Regions from separate parts of the Homo sapiens genome. Here region 1 is linked to region 2. Evidence: fine-mapped expression QTL. Tissue or cell type: whole blood. Region 2 holds a variant in brackets; the other region holds the start of a gene. All regions are shown on one strand. Distances are between the middles of the regions. Region 1 holds the start of COTL1 (coactosin like F-actin binding protein 1). Region 2 overlaps COTL1 (coactosin like F-actin binding protein 1).

Region 1 (5,000 bases), 52 kb before region 2:
AAATCTCCATACCCAGGGCATATCTCAGACCAATTATATCAGAATGTCTGGGTGTGGGATCAGGGGACCCTGGTGATTCCCATGTCCAGCCATGGCTGGGCACCACTGACCCTATAGGGTAAATGGATTGATCAAGGGCACACAGACTTGTAAATTTGCTAGACATTGCCAACTGGCCTCTACGGCGGCTCCATGGGGGTTGTGTCAATTCACACTCCCACCAGCAATGTACAAGAGGACCTGGGTCTTCCACAGCCTCCCCAGCAAAGTAGGCTTGTCAAAGTTTTTTATTTTTACCAAACTGCTAGTTTATTTATTTATTTTTTAAAGGTATCTCAATTTTGCTTTAATTTGCATTTCTCTTACTAGGAGTTGAGGTTGAGCATCTTTTTGCATGTTTAAGATCATTTAATCTGTCTGGTCATATTCTGTGCCCATTGTTCTTTTCATTTTCTTTTTTTTAAGTTTGACTTCTCTATATTTTAGCAAGACTAATTCTTTACTTGAGTTGCAAACACTTTTTACTGCTTTGTCTTTTTATGTTTACACTTTGCATGAGGTGGTATGGTATGTTTTTTTTTTTTTTTCCTGGATCACTTTTTATGTGTTTGAATGTATTCATCTTTTCAATGGCTTTTGGATTTGGATTTGGGTAACATGGTTTATGGTTAGAAGGAAGCTCCCCATATTTTCTTCTGGCACTTTTGTGATTTCCTTTTTTTGAGACAGAGTCTCGCTTTATCGCTCAAGCTCGAGTGCAATGGTGCGATCTCAGCTCACTGCAACCTCTGCCCCCCGCCCCGGGTTCAAGCGATTCTCCTGCCTCAGCCTCCCAAGTAGCTGGGATTACAGTCGTCTGCCACCACGCCTGGCTAATTTTTGTATTTTTAGTAGAGATGGGCTTTCCCCCTGTTATCCAGGCTGGTCTCGAACTCCTGAGCTTATGAGATCCTCCCACTTCAGCCTCCCAAAATGCTGGGATTACAGGAGTGATCCACTGCGACTGGTCTGATTTCCTTTATTTGTGTTTAAATTTTTGATCCTTTTGGAATTTTCCCTGATCAAAGGATCCACCTTTGTTCTTCTTTCTAATGGCCAATTGTCCCATTACCCTTGTCAAGGAGTAAGGTAGGAATGGCTTTGTGGGGTATGAAATGTGAATTTCTTTTTGTCTTATTTATAACAGCATCTGCCTCTACTCTTCTGAAACTGTGTTCCTGTCCACCCACCCATTCAACTACCCATTGATTGACTGATTGATTGATTCATTCAATTTCTCGTTTTTGTTTTTTTGCTTGTTGAGAATTCTAACATTAATTGGACATTGTCCCTGACCTTTTGGGTTTCTATTTAGGATTTGTTTTTATCACTTAATAACCAACAATGATGACATTTTATCGAATGTCTAGTATATTTGTTCCAAGTATCATTTCAATTACACTTAAAACAAAGCAGTGATGTCAGTTATACTATTTTTCCCATTTGAGGAGTCATTTAAAAGAGGTTTTGAGGCTTTCCAATGGCCCCCAGTTGGAAAGTGGCAGTACTGGATGCAATTCAAGAGCCCAGTCTTCAGGATCCTGCCTTTTTACCTACCTGGACGCTGTAACTGGTCTCTGTGGAATGGCTGGATGAGGGAATGAATGAATGAGTCAGTGAAGGAATGAGGAAGACAGAATGAGTCAGCTCGTGCTTTCAGAGGAGCCCAAAGGGAGAGGTTAAGATAGGAATGCAAATGACCAGAATCCAGAGTAAACGCGAGCCCACCAGCGTTTTGGAAGCAGTCCACTTTCTACCCCCTCCTATTTAAAATGCTTCATTCTTTCCAGTTCCTCCCCACCTAGAATCCATGGAACCAAACGCTGGGGTAGGGACAGTGGCCAGCCTGTCTCCTTGGGTTTGACGCATTACATCATCCACGTGGAGGTCCCCTGTGGAGCTCTGCAGCCCTGCAGCCTCAGGGGCAGGGGGGTGGGGAGAATGAGGAAGGGGGAGAGGGGGAATAGGAGGAGGGAGTAGGGGACAGGGAGGGAGGAGATGCCAGGAGGGTAAGTGGAGAAGAGGGAGGCGAAGCCGGGGGCAGCAGGGGAGGGGGTCAAGGAGGAGGAAAGAGGAGAGCTTGGGGAGAAGGAAATAGGGAGGATGGAGAAGTTTTGGGCTGGGATAGGCAAGAAGAGGGAGGAGGAGAGAGGAAGAAGAATAAAGGGGGAAGGGAGAAAGAGGGGGAGGGAAGGGAGGGGGAAGAGGTCAGGGAAGTGGGGGAAGCAAGCAGTGGGGGAAGAAGAGGAAGGAGGAGGGAGAGGAGGAAGGCGGGGTGGGAAAGGGGGTTGGGGTAGTGGGAGTTTCCAGGGAGGGGTCGGGAGGGGAGGAGGGGAAGTGAGAAGGAGAAGGAGAGAGAAGAGGGATGTTGGGGGAGAAGAGAGCGGGAGGGAGGAGGGAGAGTGAGAGGGAGGAGGCAAAGCCCCTACTCCAGCCCCCACCGCGGAGTTGCGCAAGCCTTCCGGTCTGGGATTGGCCGCCAGAGAATCAAGACGCTCCGCCCCCGCAGCCCGACGGCCAATGAAGAGGCGGGCCGCCGCCTGGGCGGCCAATGGGCGCGGGGGGGCGGGGCGGGCCACGGCCTGGGGTCCCCGCGCGCTCTCCGTCCGCAGTGGAAGCCGCCGCCGCGCTCGCAGCTTGCAGGCGCCGCGTAGCCGTCGCCACCGCCGCCAGCCCGTGCGCCCTCGGCGCGTACCCGCCGCGCTCCCATCCCCGCCGCCGGCCAGGGGCGCGCTCGGCCGCCCCGGACAGTGTCCCGCTGCGGCTCCGCGGCGATGGCCACCAAGATCGACAAAGAGGCTTGCCGGGCGGCGTACAACCTGGTGCGCGACGACGGCTCGGCCGTCATCTGGTAGGAACTTTTCATTCGTCTCCACGCCCCGCTCCCCGGGCTCGCGCGGGGCCTCGTGCACCGAGCCGGCCTCCAGGCGGGACGGATTCGGGCCTCCCGCGCTGTCTTCCTCGCCTTATTCCGGGACGGCGTGCCAGGCCCCCGCGGGCTTCTCCGTGGCCAGCGCGTCTGTTAGATTGTCCTCTGCAAGCGCCGCGTCGCGCGGCCACCAGCGCTGATGTGTGTGTGTGTTTTTTTCTTCTCCCAACCCAAAGGGTGACTTTTAAATATGACGGCTCCACCATCGTCCCCGGCGAGCAGGGAGCGGAGTACCAGCACTTCATCCAGCAGTGCACAGGTAGGGAGGCGCGCCTGCCGGGCGGATGCGCGGTCGTTGGGAGGTTGTCTGCACCCGGGGAGCCCCGGCCAGAGCGAACCCGGGAGGAACCGGTGGCCACATGGGGTGCCCCTGGCGCATGGCGTGGGAGGAACCCGGTGTGAGCGTTTTAAGGCCTCATAAAACCTTCTCCCCTCTGGACATCCGAAGCAACAGAAGTGACCCACCTGCCTCCGCCATCCTACAATGCCTTCTCCAGGCGGGGCAGCTCTTTTGCCCCCTGCGGTCCACTGGTTTTCTAAGGTCAACTCCTGTGTTTCCAAACTCCAGTGTCCATCCAGCTCTTCCCACTGTCCCCTTTGATCAGTCACTGAGCCCAAATACGAACAGGCTAGGGGGCTGCTTGGAAGGGAAAGAAACTCAGCCGCGCCCTCCTTTCTCCCGCTATCATTGTCTGCCCGTGTGCTGATTTTATGTGATTTTTAATTTGACGAGTAGAATCAGATGCAAAAGAGTACACACCATATGATTCCATTTAGAAATCCTAGACAAGGCGAAACTAATCTATGGTGTGAATGTCAGAATCGAGATTAGCTTTTGGGGCTAGATAGCCACTGATGGGGAGGGGCACACCACCCGGACTGCTGGGAGCTGAAAATGTCTCTGTAGACATTTGTTGATCTGGGAGGGGGTTATGCAGGTGTGTACCCGCGTGAAAAATCATCAGACTGTATACTTAAGATTTGTGTGCCTTAGGCACTTCCCTGTGGCTTGTGAACCATGAAAAGAAAGACCACGTGGCAGGCATCGCCATAAACCCTTCGGTAGTGGCAGAGGCTCTGTGATGTTGGTAATGGGACCTTTTAAAGAGATTGGAGAATGCGACTCCCTCCCATCTCTGGTCTTTAGTTGGAAGCAAGCTTTCGGACAACGGCAGCACAGCCCGGAGGTTACGGCGTGGACCCTGAGCCAGACGGTGTGGGTTACTTATTTATTTATTTATTTATTTATTTATTTTTGAGACAGAATCTTCCTCTTTTGCCCAGGCTGGAGTGCAGTGGTACAATCTCAGCTAACTGCAACCTCCGTCTCCCGGGTTCAAGAGATTCTCCTGCCTCAGCCTCCTGAGTAGCTGGGATTACAGGCGCCCACGACCACGCCTGGCTAATTTTTTGTAATTTTAGTAGAGATGGGGTTTTCACCATTTTGGCCAGGCTGGTCTCTAACTTCTGACCTTAGGTGATCTGCCCACCTTGGCCTCTCAAAGTGCTGGGATTACAGGCGTGAGCCACTGCGCCCGGCCGACGGTGTGGGTTCGAATCCCTGAACGGCTGCTTCCTGGCTGTGTGGTTTGGAACGAGTTCCTTAATCTCTGGGGGTCTTGGTTTCCTCACCTGCACTCTCACAGTGCTGTTGCGAGGATAAGTGAGTCAGTATGTATAAAATGCTCAGAACAGTGCCTGTACAAGCTACATGATTGTTTGCGAAATAAATAAAAAGTACAAAATTGTGCCAGGGATCATGTGGGTGTTTCTTTCCTTAACTGCTTCCATAATCAAATTATATTTTGCATTTAGTTCAATTCAAAGGGTATTTGTGGTGTGACTACTAGAGGATGGGTGATACTGAGAACCCGCGTGCGCGCACACACACACACACACACACACAAAACTAAAATTACTCCTTGAGCGCTGCCTGTAGACATTCATTCATTGCTTTTGTAAACAGTTGGCCTAAAATCGCAGCATAAAGCACTGCAACGATGTGGAGAGTTGGCAGGGCAGGATTTGAACC
Region 2 (5,513 bases):
TCTGTCTGTATGGGTTTGCCTTTTTTAGACATTTATACCAATGGCAGCTGACAGTACATGGTCTTCATGCCTGGCTTCTTTCACTCAGCATCCTGTTTCCGAGGTTCATCCATGTAGTTGCGTGTGGCAGCGCTTCATTCCTCTCTGTGGCTGAGGAATATTCCATTGTGTGGACGGACCGTGTTTTGATAATCCACTCCTCTGTTGATGGACATAGGGGTTGCTTCCACCTTCCATGATTCATATTTACTACTGTGTGTCATTCTCAGTACTGTGGCACTGTGCTGGTACACATAAGTGCTTAATAATTGTGGTTAGCCGGGCGTGGTGGCTCACGCCTGTAGTGCCAACACCTTGGGAGGCCAAGCTGGGCGGATCACTTAAGGCCAGGAGTTTGAGACCAGCCTGGCCAATGTGGCGAAACCCTGCTTCTACTAAAAATACAAAAAATAGCTGGGTGTGGTGGCAGACGCCTGTAGTTCGAGCTACTTGGGAGGCTGAGACATGAGAATGGCTTGAACCCTGGGGGCAGAGGTTGCTGTGAGCCAAGATTGCGCCACTGCACTCCAGCCTGGGCAACAGGCTTTTCTCTCAAGAAAAAGAAAAATGGTGGTCATTGTTTATGTTATTTCCTTATGGGCTTTTTTTTTTAATGTGGATGATTTTCTTACCTTTAGACGTGTTATTTGTGGTTTTGATAGCTTTTTTTTGTCAAGCTGTCCGTCATCGTTCTGAAATTTTGTTTGTTAAAGTCTTATGATCCACATATGGCAGTAACTGTGTATCATCATGGCTTAAGGGTGTCTGATAAGCCAGGTCACCTGGTTCCCTCATTCATGCCACAAGCGTTTACTGAGTGCATCATGGGTGCCTGCGGGTTCTATGGGTGAAACCTGTGTACTGCAAGAGGAAAGACTGACTGCATCCATTTTGCTGAGCCCTGTAGCCCCACAGCCTGGCGTGGTATTTGTTGAAAGAAGGCAGAGCCTCTACCCTCGTGTAACTCAGTGCGGGTGGAGAGCCCATGGCAGACCCAGGACTGGAGGCTCCTGCGTCATTAGGAACATTGGTGGCTGAAGCTTGCTTGTCCCAGCTGGCGAGAGCCAATTACGCCTGTCTCCTTCCACCTCCACGTATGGTGACATCACTTTGATAGCTTGACGTCAGCCACTGGGGGACTATTTACATCATGGATATGGGCAAAAGACACCAATCTGAGCTTTTGTCCTTTTCTTTTTTTTGGAGTGCCTGCACACCCGTGAGCCTTTCCAACCTCGTAACCTATTATTTTCCTGACGAGATAGTTTTTTACAGATGAGAAAGTTGAGGCACAGAGAATTGAAGGGACTTGGCCAAGGTAACAGCCCAAATTCAAGCCCCAGCTTCCTCGGGCCATCCCCACGGACATGGGAAGACGCAGCATCAGATCTGCCCCACTCCCTCCTCCCAGTCAGGTTTTTTCTGCCAGATGACTCTGCTGTTCAATTTCCATTGACTCTGCTGCTGAATTTCCATTGACTGACTCTGCTGCTGAATTTCCATTTCCATCTCTCATCAGGGTTTTCAGTGCTTTGCTTCCCAGTGTGTTGCCTGAGCCACCCTCACATCCTGTGCCTTCCTTCTTAATAGGAACGCTGTGTTTTCCTTTGTTCTTGCAGAATTTCGCTAAGGAGTTTGTGATCAGTGATCGGAAGGAGCTGGAGGAAGATTTCATCAAGAGCGAGCTGAAGAAGGCGGGGGGAGCCAATTACGACGCCCAGACGGAGTAACCCCAGCCCCCGCCACACCACCCCTTGCCAAAGTCATCTGCCTGCTCCCCGGGGGAGAGGACCGCCGGCCTCAGCTACTAGCCCACCAGCCCACCAGGGAGAAAAGAAGCCATGAGAGGCAGCGCCCGCCACCCTGTGTCCACAGCCCCCACCTTCCCGCTTCCCTTAGAACCCTGCCGTGTCCTATCTCATGACGCTCATGGAACCTCTTTCTTTGATCTTCTTTTTCTTTTCTCCCCCTCTTTTTTGTTCTAAAGAAAAGTCATTTTGATGCAAGGTCCTGCCTGCCATCAGATCCGAGGTGCCTCCTGCAGTGACCCCTTTTCCTGGCATTTCTCTTCCACGCGACGAGGTCTGCCTAGTGAGATCTGCATGACCTCACGTTGCTTTCCAGAGCCCGGGCCTATTTTGCCATCTCAGTTTTCCTGG[A/G]CCCTGCTTCCTGTGTACCACTGAGGGGCAGCTGGGCCAGGAGCTGTGCCCGGTGCCTGCAGCCTTCATAAGCACACACGTCCATTCCCTACTAAGGCCCAGACCTCCTGGTATCTGCCCCGGGCTCCCTCATCCCACCTCCATCCGGAGTTGCCTAAGATGCATGTCCAGCATAGGCAGGATTGCTCGGTGGTGAGAAGGTTAGGTCCGGCTCAGACTGAATAAGAAGAGATAAAATTTGCCTTAAAACTTACCTGGCAGTGGCTTTGCTGCACGGTCTGAAACCACCTGTTCCCACCCTCTTGACCGAAATTTCCTTGTGACACAGAGAAGGGCAAAGGTCTGAGCCCAGAGTTGACGGAGGGAGTATTTCAGGGTTCACTTCAGGGGCTCCCAAAGCGACAAGATCGTTAGGGAGAGAGGCCCAGGGTGGGGACTGGGAATTTAAGGAGAGCTGGGAACGGATCCCTTAGGTTCAGGAAGCTTCTGTGTAAGCTGCGAGGATGGCTTGGGCCGAAGGGTTGCTCTGCCCGCCGCGCTAGCTGTGAGCTGAGCAAAGCCCTGGGCTCACAGCACCCCAAAAGCCTGTGGCTTCAGTCCTGCGTCTGCACCACACATTCAAAAGGATCGTTTTGTTTTGTTTTTAAAGAAAGGTGAGATTGGCTTGGTTCTTCATGAGCACATTTGATATAGCTCTTTTTCTGTTTTTCCTTGCTCATTTCGTTTTGGGGAAGAAATCTGTACTGTATTGGGATTGTAAAGAACATCTCTGCACTCAGACAGTTTACAGAAATAAATGTTTTTTTTGTTTTTCAGAAAACAGTTTGGTTTCTGATTTGTCCTACAAAGTTCTTTTTTTTTTTTTGCTGTAATAACAGAGGCAGTCATCATCGCCTTCAGATTTAATAGGTGTTTGCGGAGCTGCTGAGGCGGGGCACATTCACATTCAATTGCTTATTTAATTCTTAGCAACCATAAGAAACAGGTGCTGCTTTTGTCCCCATTTCCTGAAATCTGAGGCTCAGAGGGATTCATTCACCCGAGGTCACCCAGATAGAAAGTGGCAGAGCTGGGATTTTTTTTTTTTTTTTTTTTGGTGACAGAGTCTCACTCTGTGGCCCAGGCTGGAGTGCAGTGGGGAGATCTCAGCTCACTGCAACCTCCATCTCCCAGATTCAAGAGATTCTCCTGCTTCAGCCTCCATAGTAGCTGGGATTACAGGTACCCGTCACCATGCCTGGCTAATTATTGTATTTTTAGTAGAGATGGAGTTTCGCCATGTTGGCCAGGCTGGTCTCGAGCTCCTGACCTCAGGTGATCTGCCCGTCTTGGCCTCCCAAAGTGCTGGGATTACAGGCGTGAGCCACCACACCCGGCCAGAGCTGGGATTTGAACTGAGATCTCTCAAAGTCCCTGGTGCTGTGGCTTGTGAGGGGAGCGGGGAGGCCACACATTTGGGATAGCGATGGGACCACAGGTAGTGATTCTTTTTGAGTGGCCAGAACTCCCCTGTCTGCCTGTTTAGGAAAAGCCAAGAGAAAGCATCTTCCTCGTTGGCCATGACATCCTTTCTGAGGTTATCCTACAGCTGAGAAACTGGACTTCCAGCACACCAGACCCTGTGGGAGCCCAGAATCAGGGCAGAGGAGTTTCAGACACAGACAGCGGGGCTTGGAGGAGCTGAGTGTGGGGCAGGGAGAGTGCGGAGAGAGGGCAGAAGCCGAAATCAGGGCAGGAAGGAATCCTACAAGGTATGGGCAAGGCCCTGATCATGCTGCCCAGGGTGGCAGGGGGCCATAGGTCACCACCCTCCCCAGCCCCAGCCCGCCCCAGCCACGTCTGGGTTCTAATTTCTGCTCATCTGTTCACAGCTGTGTGGATTTAGGCAATTTAGTTAACCTCTCAGCCTCGGTTTCCTCATCTGCAAAATAGACAACATTGCCTACGTGTAGAAAGGCTTAAGGAGCAGCGAGGATTGTGCAGGCAAAGGGCGCCTGTCAGGGTGCAGTGTTCTTATCTCACGCCTGCCACTGGTCTTGTTAGCTCTGTGGGCTTCCGTCTTTTCCTATACCCAGAGCTGAGGGAGCTAAACTAGGTCCGTTCCCAGTGCACGGGTTTTAGCTCCGTTCAGAACATGGGCTCAGTAGGTGCATGACTTCATGTCACTCATGCACTGCGTCCCGCAAGCCTTCCATCCTCTCCTGGAATCTCCTGGTCGGCCAAGCCCTCCTCCAGGCCCACTGCCCACCCCACTCCCTGCCCCAAAGCAGACTAGAAAGAATGAGCAGCTCTCAAATCTGCCCCTAGGCCTGTGGTCTCATCCCTGGCTGTGAATTAGGATCACTGGGAGCTTTGAAAATACAGATGAGGCCTCTATCCCAGACTAGTGAGTGAAATTGGAGTGCCAGACTCAACGAACGCCAGCTTTTCCTTTCCAGACAGCTGCAGAAGTGGCCCTGATCCCGGGCAGGAGGGGCTGGAAGGGAGGCCTGCCTCTCCCTCTGTGGGTTCCTCTCGTGAGTGGAATCTTGTTTGTTTTCATTTTGTTAGTTTTGAGACAGGGTCTCACTCTGCCACCCAGGCTGGAGTGCAGCGGCACAATCACAGCTCACTGCAGTCTCCATCTCCTGGGCTCAATCGATCCTTCTGCCTCAGCCTCCTGAGTAGCTGGGACTACAGGTGTGCACCACCATGCCCAGCTAAGTTTTGTATTTTTTTAGATAGGAGGTCTCCCTATGCTGCCCAGGCTGGTCTCAAACTCCTGGACTTGAGCGATCCTCCCACCTCAACCTCTCAGAGTGTAGGGCTTACAGGCGTGAGCCACTGCACCCAGCCATGACTGGAATCTTGAAGGGCAAGTGCAGACAGGTTTATTGAGCACCTACTATGTGCCAGGCACTGGCCTAGGTATGGGGATTTGATGATGAACAAACTCAGACAGCCCCCACCCTCAAGGAGGCTGAGTCTAGCAGGGATGATGGATATTAATCAGCTTGTCCCACCAGAGGGTGTGTGTTTCCAGATGAGGATAAGTCTCCTTCAGAGAAAAAAGCCCAGGTTCCATGAGAGCTCACAAGGGCCCTGGATCTGGCTAGGGTATGGGGGAGGGCTTCCCTAAGGAGGTGGTACCTGAGCTGAGAACGCGGGGAAAGGAGGGGAGGAACAGGAAAGCGTGGACATAAGCTCCATGGAATGTTTGCCCACGGGTGAGCCAGGGTCTGAAGCAGCTTGTTCGTGTGTCAAGGAGCTTGGCTTTAACTTGAAAACTGCAGCTTGGGCCTTTGCTGGGGATCCCAAGGGATCATGAGACCACTG

What was found. PIP is the estimated chance that this variant, and not a neighbour inherited with it, causes the effect.
Region 1: it holds the start of COTL1, and the variant in region 2 is fine-mapped to the expression of COTL1 in whole blood (TOPMed, PIP above 0.99).

The regions. Positions count from the first base shown.
Region 1 is chr16:84,615,728-84,620,727 of GRCh38, reverse strand. COTL1 (coactosin like F-actin binding protein 1) reads left to right here and starts at 2,650. Exons shown (of 4, transcript NM_021149.5): 1 at 2,650-2,890; 2 at 3,145-3,227. The coding sequence starts at 2,814. RefSeq lists silencers at 2,392-2,751, 2,772-2,821.
Region 2 is chr16:84,563,101-84,568,613 of GRCh38, reverse strand. It overlaps COTL1 (coactosin like F-actin binding protein 1), which reads left to right. Exons shown (of 4, transcript NM_021149.5): 4 at 1,659-3,018. The coding sequence ends at 1,769. Among named protein-coding and RNA genes, the nearest start is that of COTL1, 52 kb to the left of the region's middle. The variant A/G (reference allele first, on the strand shown) is at 2,199.